Homo sapiens: one gene and its partner. The protein of the gene in region 2 interacts with the protein of the main gene of each other region in a biochemical or structural test. Each region holds a gene or a part of one and is shown on either strand. Other genes may lie near its edges. The genes, in order: RAPSN and KLHL8.

Evidence for each region.
Region 1: of the proteins of KLHL8 (region 2) and RAPSN, one has a biochemical effect on the other in vitro, tested with the Homo sapiens proteins (one study listed by BioGRID).

Annotation. Positions count from the first base shown.
Region 1 is NC_000011.10:47,445,302-47,454,863, reverse strand, and holds the start of RAPSN (43 kDa receptor-associated protein of the synapse), read left to right. Parts: upstream 1-5,727; 5' UTR 5,728-5,899; coding exon 5,900-6,091; intron 6,092-6,713; coding exon 6,714-7,052; intron 7,053-7,426; exon of another isoform or gene 7,427-7,537; intron 7,538-9,562. UniProt on the Homo sapiens protein: Postsynaptic protein required for clustering of nicotinic acetylcholine receptors (nAChRs) at the neuromuscular junction. It may link the receptor to the underlying postsynaptic cytoskeleton, possibly by direct association with actin or spectrin.
Region 2 is NC_000004.12:87,167,481-87,176,711, forward strand, and holds part of KLHL8 (kelch-like protein 8), read right to left. Parts: intron 3,136-9,231; coding exon 2,967-3,135; intron 2,759-2,966; coding exon 2,599-2,758; intron 452-2,598; exon of another isoform or gene 1-451. UniProt on the Homo sapiens protein: Substrate-specific adapter of a BCR (BTB-CUL3-RBX1) E3 ubiquitin ligase complex required for The BCR(KLHL8) ubiquitin ligase complex mediates ubiquitination and degradation of RAPSN.

The DNA of each region.
Region 1 (9,562 bases), on a different chromosome or scaffold from region 2:
AGGTAAAGATCGCAATGAATTCCGGAAAACTATTGTTCTGTTCTCCACTTTCTCCATCTCCCTTGTCCTCGCCTCCTTTCTAGTACAGTATAATGGTTAAGAATGGGAGTCCTGGCCAGGTGTGTTGGCTCACACCTGTAATCCCAGCACTTTGGGAAGCCGAGGCAGGCATATCACCTGAGGTCAGGAGTTCGAGACCAGCCTGGACAACATGATGAAAGCCCGTCTCTACTAAAAATACAAAAAAAAAAAAAAGCCAAGAGTGGTGGCACGTACCTATAATTCCAGCTACTCAGGAGGCTGAGGCATGAGAATCGCTTGAACCCGGGAGGTGGAGGTTGCAGTGAGCCAGGATTGCGCCACTGCACTCCAGCCTCGGCAACAGAGCTAGATTCCATCTCAAAAAAAAAAAAAAAAAGAACGAGACTCTACAACCACACTGCTTCTGGTCCCAGCTGTCTAGGACCAGCAGATGGCAGTGTAGTCTTGGGCAGGTCACCTTACCTCTCCATGCCTGTTTCCTCATTTGTAAACTGGAAGAAATGCTTAACTCAGAAAATGTTAGAATGTTAAATAGGATTCTCTGTTGGTCTCCTCTTACCTTGCCAGGGGCCGTGCCGTTAGTTACTAGTAGTACAAAGACAAGTAAACCACAGTCGTTGCCATAGAGGAGCATGCCCTTAACCTAACTACAGTCGCTGATTTCTGGAAAACGTGCTCAGAAATGAAATTTTTGAGGCCGGGCATGGTGGCTCACGGGAGGCTGAGGCGGGCAGATCACTTAAGGCCAAAAGTTCGAGACCAGCCTGGCCAACATGGTGGAACCCCGTCTCTACTAAAACTGCAAAACTTAGCCAGGTGTAGTGGTGCTCGCCTGTAATTCCAGCTTCTTGGGAGGCTGAGGCAGGAGAATTGCTTGAACCCAGGAGGCAGAGGTTGCAGTGAGCCGAGATCCCACTGTGTCCGCAGTTGGTTCCTTCTAGTGGGTTCGTGGTCCCGCTGACTTCAAGAATGAAGCCGTAAACCTCTGTGGTGAGTGTTACAGCTATTAAAGGTGGTGCAGACCCAAAGAGTGAGCAACAGCAAGATTTATTGTGGAGAGCAAAAGAACAAAGCTCCCACAGCGTGGAACGGAACCTAAGCGGGTTTCTGCTGCTGGCTTGTTGGGGTGGGGATGGGCTGGTCGGGGAGGCAGCTTTTATTCCTTTATTTGTCTCCACCCATGTCCTGCTGATTGGCCCATTTTACAGAGCACTGATTGGTCCATTTTACAGGGTGCTGATTGGTCCATTTTACAAATCTCCAGCTAGCTACGGAGCACCGATTGGTGTGTTTTTACAGAGCACTGATTGGTGCATTTTACAAACCTCTAGTTAGCTACAGAAAAGTTCTCCTAGTCACCACTCCACCCAGGAAGTCCAGCTGGCTTCACCTCTCACCACCACGGGCACTCCAGCCTGGGCGACAAGAGTGAAAAACTCCATCTCAAAAAAAAAAATAATAATAAAGAAGAAATGAAATGTTTCAAGGAAACATAAGGTACTCTGCTACCTAGAATAAGCGAGTATGGGCATATTCCCATCACTGAAGTCAGATGAGCAAAGACCTGTCTCAGGGAAAGGACAGCTTGATCCCATCAAGTTTTCAAGTTTTGAGGTCATTTGAGTTCCCCAGGAAAGAGGAAGGCTGTGGTCCCCAACTCTGTTGGGGTGTAGATGCAGGCCGCCCTTCCTCCATTCCTTCCTGCCAGAGACTCAATGTGAATAGTGTCTGGGCCTTGGAGTGGGGAGAATCTGCTGGCCCTTCACACCTTCGCTGTGGGCCCAGCTTCCCTCCCATCTGCAGCTCAGCATCAACCCAGGCCTCCCTGAGATGAGAGAAGACCCCAGCCAGCTCTCCCTCCCTTTCCCAGGCTTAGGAGCACTCCTTTGGGGAGTCCAGGTGGCCTTGCCCAGCCACCTGTCCCAGAGCCTGCTCCCACTCTGCCTCTGTTGAGCCTGGGGCATTTGCCTTCTGACCCCCAGAGCGTCCCCTCTGACCCGTTGGGCTCTCAGGAAGCAGGCCGTGTAGTTGCTCTGAATTTCCCGGTGAAGCCGTCTTTCCTCCGCTTCTTCCCCATTCACCGATATTTGACATTTATTGAGGGGCCACAGTGTGCCGGGCCTTGCTCTGGGAATACAGTCAGTAATGAAGGAGACAAAGTCCTGCCCTGGGTTAGGGCCCAGCCATATGACCTCATTTGAGTGAAGAATAAAGACATTCAGCAAACAACCTCACTAATATAAAATTATAGAGAGGCTGGGCGTGGTGGCTCACGCCTGTAATCCCAGCACTTTGGGATGCCCAGGCCAGCGGATCACTTGAGCACAGGAGTTCAAAACCAGCCTGGCCAACATGGTGAAACCCCGTCTCTACTAAAAATATAAAAATTAGCTGGGCATGGTGGCATTGCCTGTAATGCCAGCTACTTGCGAGGGTTGAGGTGGGAGGGTGGCTTGAGCCCAGGAGGTCGAGGCCTCAGTGAGCCTAGATTGTACCACTGCACTCCAGCCTGGGCGACAAAGTGAGACCCTGTCTCAAAATAAAATTATAGAGATAAGTCCTGTATCAGAATGCAGTGTAATTCAATGAGAGGATAATATGCTGATTCATCCTAATTATGACTTACGAGGCAGAGTGTGGGTGTGGTGAACAGAGAAGGAATTAGGAGGTGCAAAGGCCCTGGGGCAGACAGGTAGGCAGGTACCAGAATGTAACAGTTGCCATATTACTCACACTTCTGCTCCAAGCATATACCTAAGAGAAATGAAAACATGTCCCCATAAAACCTAGTACATGAATTTTTTATTTTTTTGAAACAGGGTCTCGCTCTGTCACCCAGGCTGGAGTGTAGTGACATGATTGCGGCTCACTGCAGTCCAAGCTTGTAGGCTCAAGCGATTCTCCTGCCTCAGCCTCGCGAGTAGCTGGGACCACAGCTGTGCACCACCACACCCAGCTAATTTTTTTTTTTTTTTGTATTTTTTGTAGATATGGGGTCTCGCTATGTTTCCCAAGCTGGTCTCCAACTCCTGGGCTCAAGTGATCTGCCTGCTTCAGCCTCCTAGTGTGCTGGGATTACAGGCGTGAGCCACCGTGCCCAGCCCAATTTGTACATGAATTTTTATAGCATCATTATTCATAGTAGCCAAAAATGAAACAACCCAAATGCCTATTAACTGCTGAATCAACAAAATGTATATCCAGACAATGAGTATTAACCAACCACAATAAGTAATGAAGTTCTGATACGGTTGAAAACATAGTTGAATCTTGAAAACATTATGCCAAGTTAAAGAAGCCAGTCACAGATGACCACATATTGTATGATTCCATTCCTGTGAAGGGTCCACAATAGACAGGTCCATAGACACCAGGTGGCTTAAATAACAGAAATTTATTTTCTCACAGTTCTGGACGCTAGAAGTCCAAGATCAAGGAATTGGCAGAGTTGGTTTCATTCTAAGGCCTTGCTCCTGGGCTTGTAGATAGCCATCTTCTCCCTGTGTCTTCACGTGCTCTTCTTCTGTGTGACTGTGTCCTTTTTAAACATTTATTGTGGGCCAGGTGCGGGGGCTCACGCCTGTAATCCCAACACTTTGGGAGGCAGAGGTGGGCAGATCATGAAGTCAGGAGTTCCAGACCAGCCTGACCAACATGGTGAAACCCCGTCTCTACTAAAAATACAAAAATTAGCCAGGTGTGGTGGTGCGCAGCTGTAATCCCAGCTACTCAGGAGGCTGAGGCAGGAGAATCACTTGAACCTGGGAGGTGAAGGTTGCAGTGAGCCAAGATGGCACCACCACACTCCAGCCTGGGTGACAGAGGGAAAGTGTCTCAAAAAAAAAAAAAAGTATTGTGGTCAGGCATGGTGGCTCACGCCTATAACCCCAATACTTCGGGAGGCTCTGAGGCAGGTGGATCAACTGAGGTCAGAAGTTCAAGACCAGCCTGACCAACATGGTGAAACCCCGTCTCTACTAAATACAAAAACTTAGCCAGGCGTGGTGGCATACACCTGTCATCCCAGCTACTTGGGAGGCTGAGGCAGGAGAATTGCTTGAACCCGGGAGGTAGAAGTCTCAGTGAGCTGAGATTGTGCCACTGCACTCCAGCCTATGCAACAAGAGCAAAACTCCGTCTCAAAAATAATTTTTAAAAATAAAAATTTATTGTTTATTTATTTTTTGAGACAAGGTCTTGCTCTGGTGCTCAGGCTGGAGTGCAGTGGCACAATCACGGCTCACTGAAACCTCCACCTCCAGGAGTTCAAGACCAGCCTGGGCAACATGGTGAAACCCATCTCTACAAAAACTAGACAGCTGTGGTCTCAGCTACCCAGGAGACTGAGGTGGGAGGGTCACTTGAGCCTAGGAGGTAGAGGTTGCAGTGAGCTGTGACTGCACCACTGCACTCCAGCCTAGGTGACAGAGTGAGACCCTGTCTCAAAAAAAAGGGGGGGGGGATACCAGTCTTAACTGGATGAGGTACAATGTGACTTCATTTTACCTTAATCACCCTTTAAAGACCCTGTCTCCAAAGACAGTCACCTTATGAGATACTGAGTGTTAGGACTTAAACATATGCGTTTGGTTGCGGGGGGACATGATTCAGTCATATCAAGGTGGGGAATGGAGTGGTGTAACTGCTGATGGGTGTGCGTCTCCTTTTTGGGGTGGTTAAAATGTTCTGGAATTAGTGGCAATTAATGTGCATCTCTGTGAATATACTAAAAACCACTGAATTGCCCAGCCAGAAAGGATAAACTTTTGCCCTGGGGCAGGAAGAAGGCTGGCATGCAGAGAGAGGAGAAAGGGGGGCTGGATGAGCTGGCCTGCTAGCGGGGGCCCCAATACTACATAAGACCTTGCCCTTCTCCACAGTATCTGGTGTTAAATCTCATTATGAGGACCCTTTCAGCCCGGGGTTGGGATTGGAAGTGAGACATTGAAACTTCAAGGGCTGGGTTCTGGCCCGGGTGGGGATTTGCCATGGAGCAAAATAGCCTCTTGCAGCACATGCGGGGTTTCCTGTGCCGGGCACTGTCCTAAGTCCTTCTCAACTCTTTCGTCATTGAGTTCTCATAGCAGTCCAGTGAGCCAGGTACCATTCCTCTCTTCAGTCCACGGTGCCAGGTCACTTGGCTAGGGTCCCACTGAGAGTTCGAAGGAAGCCAGGCTAGAGCTCAGGCCTCTCACCAGCTGGAGGTCTTTCCCAGACTCTCTAAGGTGAGAGTTGGTGAATGGTGTCAGCCTGGGCCTGGATGAGTGACCCACGGTGCTCAGTGAATTTCAGGAACAGAGCCAGGGGATGCTGCGGTCAGGGGTGTCTTGATGGGGAAGAAGCAGGGCTGGGCGCTCACCTGGCTTCCCCGGACCTGCAGGTCCAGCCTCGCTCTCCTTCCCCCGAGCACCTCTAGCCCAAGGCCTGCCCACTTGCTGGAGCTGGCCCCTTGGCAAGGCTGCTGGGAGGGCCCGTGCTGCCAGGGCGGTCAGGGTCAGTGTCAGAGGTGCCTAAGGGACGCCCAAGGGGGTGCCCAGGTGGCAAGGTGCCTGTATGCTCAGGGAAGCCACGTCCCAGCTCGCGGGTGGGTGCAGCAGAGGCCCACGTGACCTTGCTGCTGACATTCCTCAGAGGCCATGTGGCCCCAACTGGCAGCGACAGCTGCAGACGGGCTGAACCAGCTTTGTTCCCAGGGTGGCGCCTGCTCTCCATCCAGGCCCCATTCCGGCTCCCACCCGACGCTGCTTTTGTTCCCACGTTTCGGGGGGCAGCTGGCACTGTGATTCCTGCCCCATGAGTGCCTAGAGGCACGGAGCCACCAGGGATCACCCCACGTGGGACACAGGGCTTGGGGAGGATGGGGCAGGACCAGACCAAGCAGCAGATCGAGAAGGGGCTCCAGCTGTACCAGTCCAACCAGACAGAGAAGGCATTGCAGGTGTGGACAAAGGTGCTGGAGAAGAGCTCGGACCTCATGGGGCGCTTCCGCGTGCTGGGCTGCCTGGTCACAGCCCACTCGGAGATGGGCCGCTACAAGGAGATGCTGAAGGTGGGTGTACCCGGCCTGGGGGCGTTCGAGGGTCAGGCTGGGGCCGGATGTCTCCCAGGCTCCCCAGTCCCCTCTCGGCCTCCTCGGGCTCCCCTGTGTCCCACAGGCTGGCAGCCAGGGCCCGAGGCTCTGAATTTATATCTAAGGCCCTGGGTCTTAGATACTGAGTCTTGGCATCAGATTCAGGCCTGTGGCCTTGAACTGTGGTGCCCGAGTCTCTGAGACTGAGGTTCTCCAGCCTCAGGGTCGAGGGTTTGTGGGTCTCAAGCCCATTGTAGGTTTCAGCCTTCCTGTCTGGTGTTCTGTGTCTGAGCCTGGCGGGGTGTGGGCTCCAGGGTTGCGGCTGGGGGTGGGTGGGTGGTGGAGACTCCAGATCTGAGGCTTGGGATAGAAGGTGAAGGCTGCAAGCCTGAGCTTGGGAGGTGAGGCTGGGGTGTAGGGAAGGTAGCTGAGGCTGGCGGGTAGAAGCTCTGGGTCTGAAAAGAAGCTTTGGGATCTGCTGCTTTGGGTGTGAGGCTGGGGGGTGGGTGTGGGGCCTCCAGGTCTGAGCCTGCAGTGCAGGCTGGGGTCCAAGGCTCAGAGTCCAGGCTGAGCACCACCTGCCCACCGTCGCTGTGTGCAGTTCGCTGTGGTCCAGATCGACACGGCCCGGGAGCTGGAGGATGCCGACTTCCTCCTGGAGAGCTACCTGAACCTGGCACGCAGCAACGAGAAGCTGTGCGAGTTTCACAAGACCATCTCCTACTGCAAGACCTGCCTTGGGCTGCCTGGTACCAGGGCAGGTGCCCAGCTCGGAGGCCAGGTCAGCCTGAGCATGGGCAATGCCTTCCTGGGCCTCAGCGTCTTCCAGAAGGCCCTGGAGAGCTTCGAGAAGGCCCTGCGCTATGCCCACAACAATGATGACGCCATGCTCGAGTGCCGCGTGTGCTGCAGCCTGGGCAGCTTCTATGCCCAGGTCAAGGTGGGCCTGCACCCCAGGGGGACAGCAGTGGAGGGTTTTGGGGCTCCCCTCTCATGAGGCACACACCCTGTGGCACTACCTCATTCAGCCCTCCTTTTAGGGAGGGCTGAGGAGAGTGAGAATCAGAGAGCAAAAAGGCTTATCCAGGAAGGTAACAACTTGGCCAGGAAGCCAGCAAGGGCAGAGCCAGGATTCAAACCTTGATCTGTGTGACTTCCTGGAGGAATAATGGGAGGCTCCTCTGTGAGGACAGGCCAGCGGCCTGCACTGCCATGTTTGCTGTGTGGTCTTGGGCAAGTCACCTATCCTCTCTGAACCTTGGGAGAGATCTGTAAAATGAAGGAGAATAGGACTCACCTTACAGTGGGGTTGTATGGAGTCAGTCATCAAATATTTATTGACCAGCTACTGTATCCCAAGACTGTTGACCCAGGGTGTAGCAGTGAGAAAAACAGCCAAGTCCCCGTCCTCACGAGGGTTGCATTCTAGTTGGAGAAGAAAGACGATCAACACAGTCAGGAAGTCAAGTGGTTAGGAGAAAGCGAAGCGGGGCAAAGGGCTGGCAGCACTGGGCGTGGGGGTGTCATAATTTCAAATATAGTGGTCGGAGGGCCTCGCAGAGGTGATGTTTGATGGCTTGAAGAAGAGAGGGTGTGCCATGCAAAAATCTGGTGAGAGAGCATTCTAGGCAAAAATGGGCGAGCCCCTAAAGCCAAGCTGGACCCTGGGGGAGCATCCTGGAATGTTTCCTGGAATGTTCCAGGAAGGACAGAGGCCAGCATGGCTGCCAGGCGTGTCTCAGGTGTGTGCGGAGGTAGGGAGGTGAGAGGAGGAGGGCCAACTGTGAAGGAACTGATAGGATCAGCCACAGCAGGTTCTGATCCTGGGTATTTTTTGGCGGGGGCAGGGGCGGAGTTTTGCTCTTGTCACCCAGGCTGGAGTGCAGTGGTGCCATCTCGGCTCACTGCAACCTCCGCCTCCTGGGTTCAAGCGATTCTCCTGCCCCAGCCTCCCAAGTAGCTGGGACTACAGGCGTATACCACCACGCCCGGCTAATTTTTGTGTTTTTAGTAGAAATGGGGTTTCACCATGTTGGCCAGGCTGGTCTTGAACTCCTGACCTCAGGGATCCGCCCGTCTTGGCCTCCCAAAGTGCTGGGATTACAGGCGTGAGCCACCGCACCCGGCCAACCCTGGGTATTTTTGTTCCCTTTCCCCTCAGGTATCTGTGCTGTGCTTGGTCCATGGGGGATTTAATGCCTGGCCCCAGTAGATGCTTAATAAATCTTGGAGTTAGTGAGTGGATAAATGCTGATGGATCCAAGGTGGGATGGGAGGAAACGAGTCACCAAGGATGACAGCCAGGACTTTGTTTTTAGGAAGCAGATGTAAGGGGGAGCCATTCAGTGAGATGAGATAGGACTGGGGCAGGACAGGGGTTTTTAAAAACCTTTTTAATTCTGAAGAAAAGTAAGCTAGGCCTGGTGGCTCACACTTGTAATCCCAGCACTTTGAGAAGCTGAGGGGTGAGGATCGCTCAAGACCAGGAGTTCCAGACCAGCGTCTACAAACAGTTTTTTTTTTTTTTTAATTTGGCAAGGCTCATGCCTATAATCTGAGCACTTTGAGAGGCCAAGCAGAAGGATTGCTTGAGCCCAGGAGTTTGAGAGCAGCTTGAGTCGCATAGCAAGACCCCATCTGCACCAAACTTTAAAAATGAACCAGACATGGTGGCTCACACCTATTGTTTCAGCTACTCAGGAGGCTGAGGCGGGAGGATCGCTTGAGCCCAGGAGTTTGAGGCTGCAGTGAGCCATGAGTGTTCCACTGCATTCCAGCCTGGGCAACAGAGCAAGACCCTGTGTGAGAGAAAAAAAAAAAAAGCCCAAGTGTGGGCTTGTGGGGTGTTCATTGCTAGTGGGATGTCCGTGCTTCTAAATCTTTTCAGTTATCAGAATAATGGAAGTTTATACTGACATTTCCAATTCAAATCTAATGTTTCAGGAGCTCCCCTTAACTTATTTTAAACTTGATTGTCTTTTCTCTTAGATGAAAAATCTTAGTTTCTAACCACATAATTAAATATTTGCTTTACCCTACAAAATACGTAAAATAATTCCAAAAGACAATACCAATATTACTCTAGAAAATAAAGACAACTGAATGAAGTTTAAGATTTCTTTGCTGTTCTTTTGGCTTTTTTTTTTTTTTTTTTTTTTGAGACAGTCTCGCTCTGTTGCCTAGGCTGGAGTGCAGTGGCTCGATCTCGGCTCACTGCCACTTCTGCCTCCCGGGTTCAAGCGATTCTCCTGGCTCAGCCTCCCGAGTAGCTGGGACTACCGGCACACGCCACTATGCCCAGCTAATTTTCTGTATTTTTAGTAGAGACGGGGTTTCACCATGTTGGCCAGGATGGTCTCAATCTCTTGACCTGGTGATCCACCCGCTTCAGCCTCCCAAAGTGCTGGGATTACCGGTGTGAGCCACTGTGCCCAGCCTTGTTTTTGTAAT
Region 2 (9,231 bases):
AGAGGAGGCTGGGAGCAATTTACCAATGCGGTTGTGTCCTGGCTAAATCAGAACTCGAATGGCCTTGTCTTTCTGCTCTGGGGCTGTTATGCTAAGAAGAAGGGCAGTGCCATCCACAGGAAGCAGCACCATGTGCTGCAGATGGCTCATTCCTTCCCGTGTACAGAGGGTTCTTTGGATGTAGACAATTTTCTAAGACCAATGAGCTCCTGCAGATGTCTAGCAAGAAGCCCACTGACTGGAAGGAGCTATGATCCTGAGCTGAGGAGTAGTCTGTCTCCATTGGTGGTTATTGGGAAGCTGTTGTTAAAGTATTTGTCACTTACAAAATCAAACTGAAAAATTTCCTATTAATTCTTAAATACTCTGCATAAGGGGTAAAGCTTCCATAAAGCAGCCATGAACCAGGTTGCCCAGAAATGGCAGCTTTATATAGCCACACATAGCAAAGACTATCCTTTGGCCAAATGTCTCTACAACATGGCTTCAGCCTAAAATATGCTAACTTCTCAGAAGACAGATGAAGTCAAATGCTCACTTGGCTCTCTTTACCCCACACCCCGCCCCCCGCCTTACCTTTATGGTTAAAGGGGGAAGATATATACCCTTTAGGTAGAACCATAGTTTGATGCCTGCTGTTACTTGGTTTTGCCTAGTTAGACTTTCAACTACAAGGTATTTTAGGGGGTGTTTTTGTGTAGAAAGGCCCCCTTTTCCCAGCCTGGCAGGCATTCCAGTCTCTGCCAAGTACACTTATACTCCCTTGATCTTTCAAGGGGCCTTCAGGTCCTTCCTTGAGGGAACTATGAGGGTTTTGCAGGTTTCTAGAAATCTGGCCGTGAAATTAGGGCTCAATTTTCTGATTGTAGTAAAGGTGAAGACTCCTAAGGAACAGCGCTTGGTGTTGGCCTTAACAGACAGACAAGGGCTGAGGGATGTGAACTGAGTCTTGTTATTCTTTCGGCGTTTTGTGGAATAAGCAGTGAAATTTAGACAAGAAAGAATAGAAAAGAGAATTCTTCTTTAATGGGGGGAGGTGATTTTCTCCTAGGGTTATCCTGAGTTGGGGTTTTTAAGATAGCACAAACTGCTGCATGCTGTTTTTTATGGACTGAAATCAATTTATAATATTTTTTTCTGCAACACTGGAGATTTTTATTTTTTAAAAGATATATATATGTATATATATGTGTGTATATATGTGTGTATATATATACGTATATATATGTGTATATATATACGTATATATATGTGTGTATATATACGTGTATATATGTGTGTGTATATATATGTGTATATATATACGTATATATACACACATATATATACACACACATATATATATATCCTTCTTTTTTAAGACACAATCTTTATTGGGTCTGTACCTTCATCCTTGATCTTGTTAGCAATGCCTTTTTTTGCTGTTAGGTGGGTTAAAGCGTTAAACCTGCATGGGGTTTGGTAATAAAAGATTGTTAAAGTAAAAAAAAAAAAAAAAGCAATATAAACATTGACATGACCTTTATTTATATGAAATACCTAGGCCAGGTGTGGTGGCTCATGCCTGTAATCCCAGCACTTTGGGAGGCCAAGGCAGGAAGATCACTTGAGGTCAGGAGTTCAAGATCAGCCTGGCAAACACGATGAAACCCTGTCTTTACTAAAAATACAAAAATTAGCTGGGCACGGTAGCACACACCTGTAATCCCAGTTACTCAGAAGGCTGAGGCAGGAGAATTGCTTGAACATGTGTGGCAGAGGTTGCAGTGAGCTGAGATCATACCACTGCACTCCAGCCTGGGTGACAGAGCAAAACTCTATCTCAAAAATAAATAAATAAATACCTACTGGCTTACTTGAAGTATTCAACATAATTTCCCTTGAAATGAGGTTGAGAAAAACAAATCTGAGACCTTTTAAAATTTATTGTAGCAAAGCACATTCAATCTGTGTCCTTCCATTTAAAAACATATACCTTATTTAAATGTAATCCCCTTCTTTAAATAAATTTGTTACTCTTAGAAAAATAAGGCTGTACATGTTTTAAACATGAAAGATGAAGATTTAAACAAAAATTATGAATGTGACCTTAACAATTCAGCTAGGCATGATGGCCCATGCCTGTAATCCCAGCACTCTGGGAGGGCAAGGCAGGAGGATCACCTAAGGCCAGTTGTTCATGACCAGCCTGGGCAACACAGCAAGAACCCATCTCTACAAAAAACAGAAAAAAACTGGCTGGGTGTGATAGCCTGGGCCTCTAGTCCTAGCTACTTGAGAGGCTTGAGGCAGGAGGATCATGTGAGCCCAGGAGTTCAAGGCTGCAGTGAGCTACGATTGTGCCACCGCACTTCAGCCTGGGCAACAGAAAGACACTGTCTCCCTCTGAAAAAAAAAAAAACAAAGAATTCAAAAGCATCAGACTGAACATGTACAATTCTCTGTTAATTATAAACAAAATTTTGTAAGAAAGAATTCAAAAGCACATTTCAGGACCGATTCTACTTAAGGCTAAATGCAATGTAATTTTTGTTACTCTGTTATATGACACTTGTCATTGTATATACTGATATATTAGAGAAATACCCATTTACTCACCAACTACGTATAAGCAACCATGAAGCTTGCTAACTCCATTGCCTGCTCTTCGCTGACCCATTTCTTTAACTTCTATCCACTTATCCAGATGTGGATCATATCTCTCCACGCTAGATAAAGAAGCCATTCCATCATTGCCACCTACTGCATAAACATGGTTCTAAATGAAGAGAGTCAAACAAAACACATTAGATTTCGAATTTATTTATATATTGTTTTAATGGTAAATTAGAATGTACAAGGCAGTATTTCAGGAAATAATATGATATATAATATCTTCATACTGGTGATGATATATTGGACCTTTCCTTATTTTGGTTATGAATGTAATGCAATGTAATTTAATGACAAGTTGCCATATAACTTACTACTAGAGCAACAGAGCCAACTCCTCCACGGGGAGTATTCATTGGTGCCACTGTACTCCACTGATCAGATTCTATGTCATATCTCTCCACATCATTGAAGCAAGTATTGTCATCTAACCCTCCAATTGCATAAATTGGGCCTCCTAAGGAAGCCAAGGCAATTCCTCGCCTGCAAAGACAATAAAACATACTTTAGCAAATGAGTTTGTTTCCAGGAAAAAAAGTCATATAAAAAATTGTGCTAATGCAAATCATTTATCATGTTAACCTTCAAACAGTATAGTTTGTTTCCATTATTTTTAGATCTATCAAAGCTTTTGACTAGATGGCTACAGAATTGCCAAACTGTGCAACTCTATGTGAATACTGCCCCCTGAAGTTGTACAGTGCATAGCCTACACAGGCTACTTTAAACTCAAAACAATAAAATATAACCCAACAAAATAGTATAAAAGAGTTCAAAATATTCAATTAGTGCACACACAGCGGCATAACTGAGAGGTTAATGAGTTGACAGAGAAGTTCTGCAGCGGAGGTCAGAAGCCAATCTCACTTACAAATCCATGCAATTACAGAGCTCATTTTGTTGCAGGGTTTCATTATACCACACAAAAGAGTATTAAATTTTATATTACAAGTTTTATGTCACGTTGCTTTATTTCTGAAGCGTATTTATTTCTCTCTAAAAGTAAGAGACTTAGCCCATGTTAAAAGCTGATTTAACAGTGATCAAAAAAAAAACTCAATTTCTTAAAAAACACACTGCACCAATCAAAAGTTGAACTATTATCAAACTATTATTTTGTCACTAGCTTGGATAATTTATAAACCTCTACTATCTTGTGTCTCATCTGAGACATAGATGGATATTAATGAGTTAATACATGTAAAGCACTAAGAACAATGTCTGGCCCATATTTAGTTCTATGAAGTATTAGCTTTTATTATTATTGGAGAAAGCAGCTGCTTCACTGAGATTCTAACTCTAAATTTACCAGAGAGTATCCAACAAAAGAATTCTTAAGGATAATGTTATCATTCACTTTCAAGCTCCTCAACCTCTTTTCTCTTGGGTATAAAGCTATGACTTACCAAATACTGTGCTGATAAAAATGTTCAGGTGTGTGAGAACAAGTACATGTGTTCTCTAGAATGTAACGATGTTAGGTCAGGGAAATAAAGTAAGTATGCCTCATAATTGTCCCTCCCCTTAAAGGACAAAAGCAGACAACATCATTGGCTTATTTCCTACTCCTCAAAACTCTCTTGGTTTTCATAACATCATACGTTTTAGTCCACTCCTACGTCTCTGGCTAGTGCTTTTCAGCTTCATCAGTGCCTTCTTTACTCCATCATTAAATTATAAAGTTCCCTAAGGGTCACTCTACACTTTCTCTCCCTAAGCATATCCCATTCTTTCCACAGATTTGTGATAATTCAAATATATATTTTCAGACATATACCCAATTTCTACCTCAAATATGTCTTGCTGGCTCTTCAACCTTAACTTTAATCTGAAATGAAACTCACTGCCCACCTCGCTGTGGTAGGCAGAATTTTAAGATACTCCTCATCCCCCATGACCTTCATCCCCTGGTGTTACTCTCATGACTATGCTACATTATATGGCAAAAGGGAGGTGACCTTGGCGGGCCTAATCTAATCAAACAAACCTTCAAAAGCAGAGAGGTTTCTCCAGCTGATTGTCAGAAATTCAAAAAACCAAGTGAATGCAGTGTGCCATTGCTTGTTTGAAGGTGGGGGGGAACATGTGGGAAGGATCTGGCAGTGACTTGTAGCCAACAGCCAATAAAAATGAGAAACAGTCCTATAGCCACAAGGAACTGAATTCTATCAATAACCTAAATGGCCCTGGAAGTGGCTTCTTCCCCAGTGCCTCCAGACAAAAGCCTAGCCCAATCTCTTGATTCTGGCCTTGTGGGACCCTAAGTAGAAAGCCTAGCAAAACCTGCATGACTTTTGAACTGTGAGCTAATAAATGGGTGCTATTTTAAGCTGCTAAATTGGGGGCAATTTGTTACATGGACATAGAAAATTAATACAACCCCATCACAAAACAAACAAAAATTTTATCCCATTCACCATGTTGTTTTCCTAATTCAGAAATCATACCATTATCCATCCAGTTGCTTAAGGCAGAAACCGAAGAATCATCTTTGCCTCTACCTAACTGTTCTTTCTAATTATCATAAAGTGTTTTTGACCATACACCTCTGAACTATCTTTCAAATATGTCCTCTTTTCTCTATCTCAATTTCTATCAGTATAGTCTAAGCCACCATTATTTCTTTACATCAAGGGATGAAGAATTACAATAACCCTTTTTGGTCTGTCAGACTGTTTTCACTCTGGTCATCCTCAAATCCCTTCTCCATTTTGAATGCAGAAGTTCTCTGAAAAGAGAAATCTGATCCTACAATTCCCCTATTATTTAAATAAAAATATAAAATGTATATTTACTATACATGCATATTAAATATATATGTTTAATTCAAAGCCCATCAGATAAAATATCCTTGGCAAACTTGAAAGGCCTTCAACCTTTACTTACTCTTTCTGCCTCATTTCTAGACACTCTTCCCCTTAATCTTCCAACTACATTGGACCACTTTCATGCTCTTTGCTCTCTTTCATCGCCTGGTTTTTGAAGGCTCTTCATCTCCCTCCACTTACCACTCTTACCCCACCTATAATAACTTAATCAGGCTAAATTCTGCAGTTCCTTCAGATCATAATAAATGGGACTTCATTAAGATGTTCTCCACTCCTCAAGCACCCTTTACTCACCCCATGCTAATATTATTGCCCTTATGTCATTATTTGTTATCTTCTCTTCTACAATGTAAGCTATACAGAGGCAGAGACACTGGCTATGTTTTCTACTGCTGGTAGCAAAAAACAAAGTTGTATCTTTACCACTTGGTGTGTCTTGTGGTGGGCATTTAAAACTTTTTTTTGAATAAATAAGTGAACCTTTAGACATGCTGTCAGGATGATGGGTTTCAACAGACTCATAGCTTAAACAAACATCGGTGTCCATTTCAGTGGAAAGATGAAATAAAAAAATAAAGATAACCAGATATTTCACATGTGAAAATGTATTGAAATGCCAAAAAGATGATTTGGGGCTATATAAGTTATAAACAAATAATATGACAAAATAATTGTAGCTCTATTATTTTTCACACAGATTGTAAATGCTCGGGGCATATTTTAAAAGATTAAAGAAATTCAATTGCTATTTTGCTAGAGAAGTTTCATTCAATCTTTGGCTAAAAACCAACATAGTAACAGGGATATAAAGATTAAAAAAGTACTTTGGGATTTTATCTCCCATTTTAATCCATGCAGTTATCACATAGTGTAAATCACTCCCTATTAAAGTATTAAAATGTCATTTGTAGACAGTGGGAGATAACAGTTTAAGACTAGCTTTTTTTTTTTCTAGGATTCTTTTTCATGAGGGGAAAAAAAGCTTAAAATGTCTTCACATTTTTTTTTAATCTTTCATATTTTAACACAAGAAGCAAAAACCAGTTGAAAATATTATTAATCAAAAATAGAAAATTAGAGGCAACATATCCCCATGTGTGGTTTAGTTTTTAATTGCTCATTTTGATAACAAGTCATTTTTGCAGAATGGTGCTAATTTGCCAACCATATAAGCCACAATGTCTCAGGTATGGTTTTACTAGTTCAGGTTTGTTTCTTTTAATTAAACTGTGGGTGATACATTTATATATATTAAGGTCAGTATCATTATATATCATATATATGTGTGTATGTGTGTGTGTATATATATATATCACCTGCAAGTTTTTTTTTTTTGAGACGGAATTTTGCTCTTGTCATCCAGACTGGAGTGCAATGGCGCAATCTCGGCTCACTGCAACCTCCACTTCCTGGGTTCAAGCGATTCTCATGCCTTAGCCTCCGCAGCAGCTGGGATTACAGGCACCCGCCACCACGCCCAGCTAATTTTTGTATTTTTAGTAGAGACGGTGTTTTGCCATGTTGGCCAGGCTGGTCTCAAACTCCTGACCTCAGGTGATCCGCCCATCTTGGCCTCCCAAAGTGCTGGGATTACAGGCATGAGCCACCATGCCCGGCCCACCTGCAGTTTTATTAAAAGAAACTCTTCAGCAATATTTTCAATATTTACTAAGATAGCCCTCTTCTCTCTTCTCGCATTATATTTTCACTCTGACACAGAGACAGAATTATTCTAGTATCTAGTTTTATACAAATTATTAAGCTCAGTCTTTGAAATCCTCACGCTATTAACAGAACAATAAAGTTGAAAAAAAATAGGCAATAAAATTTAATCTCCCATTTGGTGCAAAATATATGTGATCTTTCTGACAATACAATTCCAATCACTAGGAGGAATTACAGTATGCTTCATTGCTACTATACTGAATCATAAACAAATATTTATTCCTTCCTACTAAATCAACATACACTCTTAAAATATCTAGTAACTCCTGTAAGTTTTCTTGTCTCCAGATCACAACGCTTCAACTATTTTTTGTAGATAACATGGTTTTCAGTTGTATTACTAACCTGCTAGTTTTTTCTTACATGCATTCCAGATTATCATTCTCACATTTATTACAATCCATTTTTGTGCATTTTCTATAGATCTTATTTTCAAATTATAAACATGTTACTGTACTAACAAGTTATGTTCATTATAAAACATCCACCCAAAATAAATTTTTAAAAATGTACAGAGAGTCTAATCTTTTATTCCCATACCCCAACTGGTGTTATATACCCTACTTCAACAATACATCTATAGATACGGAGAGATCAGTGTCAAGAACAATACAACTATAACTCCCTTAATCTAAGGCTTCACTTCTTTTAATGTAGGCAACTGTATTATATTCACTTTTTTCCTTTCCTTTTTTTTAAGAGCTGTGTTTCATAATGGTTCAGGTACTTTTCTCCATATGAAACAATCAAAAACCTGATTTCCCACCATGTTATGTTGTACTCGTGGGATTGAGTTTTTAAAATACCTAAGGCAGGTTTTAACCTATAACTCTAATTTTAACATTTTTTAGGTTTTTGTCTAGAGTATATGTGGTCTACTCCGTCTTTGGAATCCTGATTTGGTCACATGCCTTAGTGATCTTTCCACCTTAGGATATCTAAAAAGCTGGTATTCAAGTCATTAATGAAAGTGTCAAACAGGTTAGAGTACTAAGTATGTTACTAAAAATCTTCCCTTTAGACTGATACATTAATCAGCATATATTCCAGTTTATGTTGATGAGAATATAAATATTAGAACATAAATATGTAAATGAGAACATAAATATGTAGGTGAGAACTTAAAATATTACTGTTCATCAGGATAAAAATCAATGAAGAAAAGAGAAATTGAGGACTATTTTCTTAACATGATAAAAATATAGATACCTTAGTCCTAAAGTCAGTATCTTATTTAATAGCAAAACACTAGATACTTTTCTAATAAGATCAGGAACAAGACAAAAACACCTACTATCTCTGCCATTATTCACCTGTATTAGATTATTAGGCAATACAATTAGACAAGAAAAATCAGTAAGAAGCATAAGGATGTTTGGGAAAATTGACTCAAAAAGTCTACAGATTAATTAATACTACTGTTCAATGCTAATTTCAGTAACTGCTATGGCTGTGTAACATGTTAACATTATGGGAAGCCAGGTGCAGGGTAGGTGGCAAGGTTTTGCCATCTCAGCACTGGCATTTGGCATTATCTTTGCCACTGGCACTTGGGATTATCTTTGCCACTGGCATTTGGACTAGAAGATTCTTTGCTGTGCATTATAGAATCTTTAGCATCATTTCTGACTTCTTCCCATAGATGCTAGCAGCAATTTTCCCATCCCCAAGCTGTGACAACCAAAAATGTCTTCAGACACTGCCAAGTGTCCCATAGAGGGGACAAAATCATCCTCAGTTGAGAACCACTGGTACACAGAAACTTTAATATTTTTGCAACTTCTCTGAATAAACTAAAATTATCTCAAAATAAAATGTTTAAAAAAATCAATGCTCATGTATAAGTGAAAACTGTGACTACCATATGGTACTCTAAAACATGACTGCATTTTTAATTCTTAAAAAAAATAAAAGGTGTTAACAAAGTATCACTTTGGACATGCTAACAAAATGTGTTTGAGAAGGTATTTAAAGTTTCTAAAGTAGAAAAAAAAGTTTAAAATAAGGCCTTTAAATTTTAAGAAAC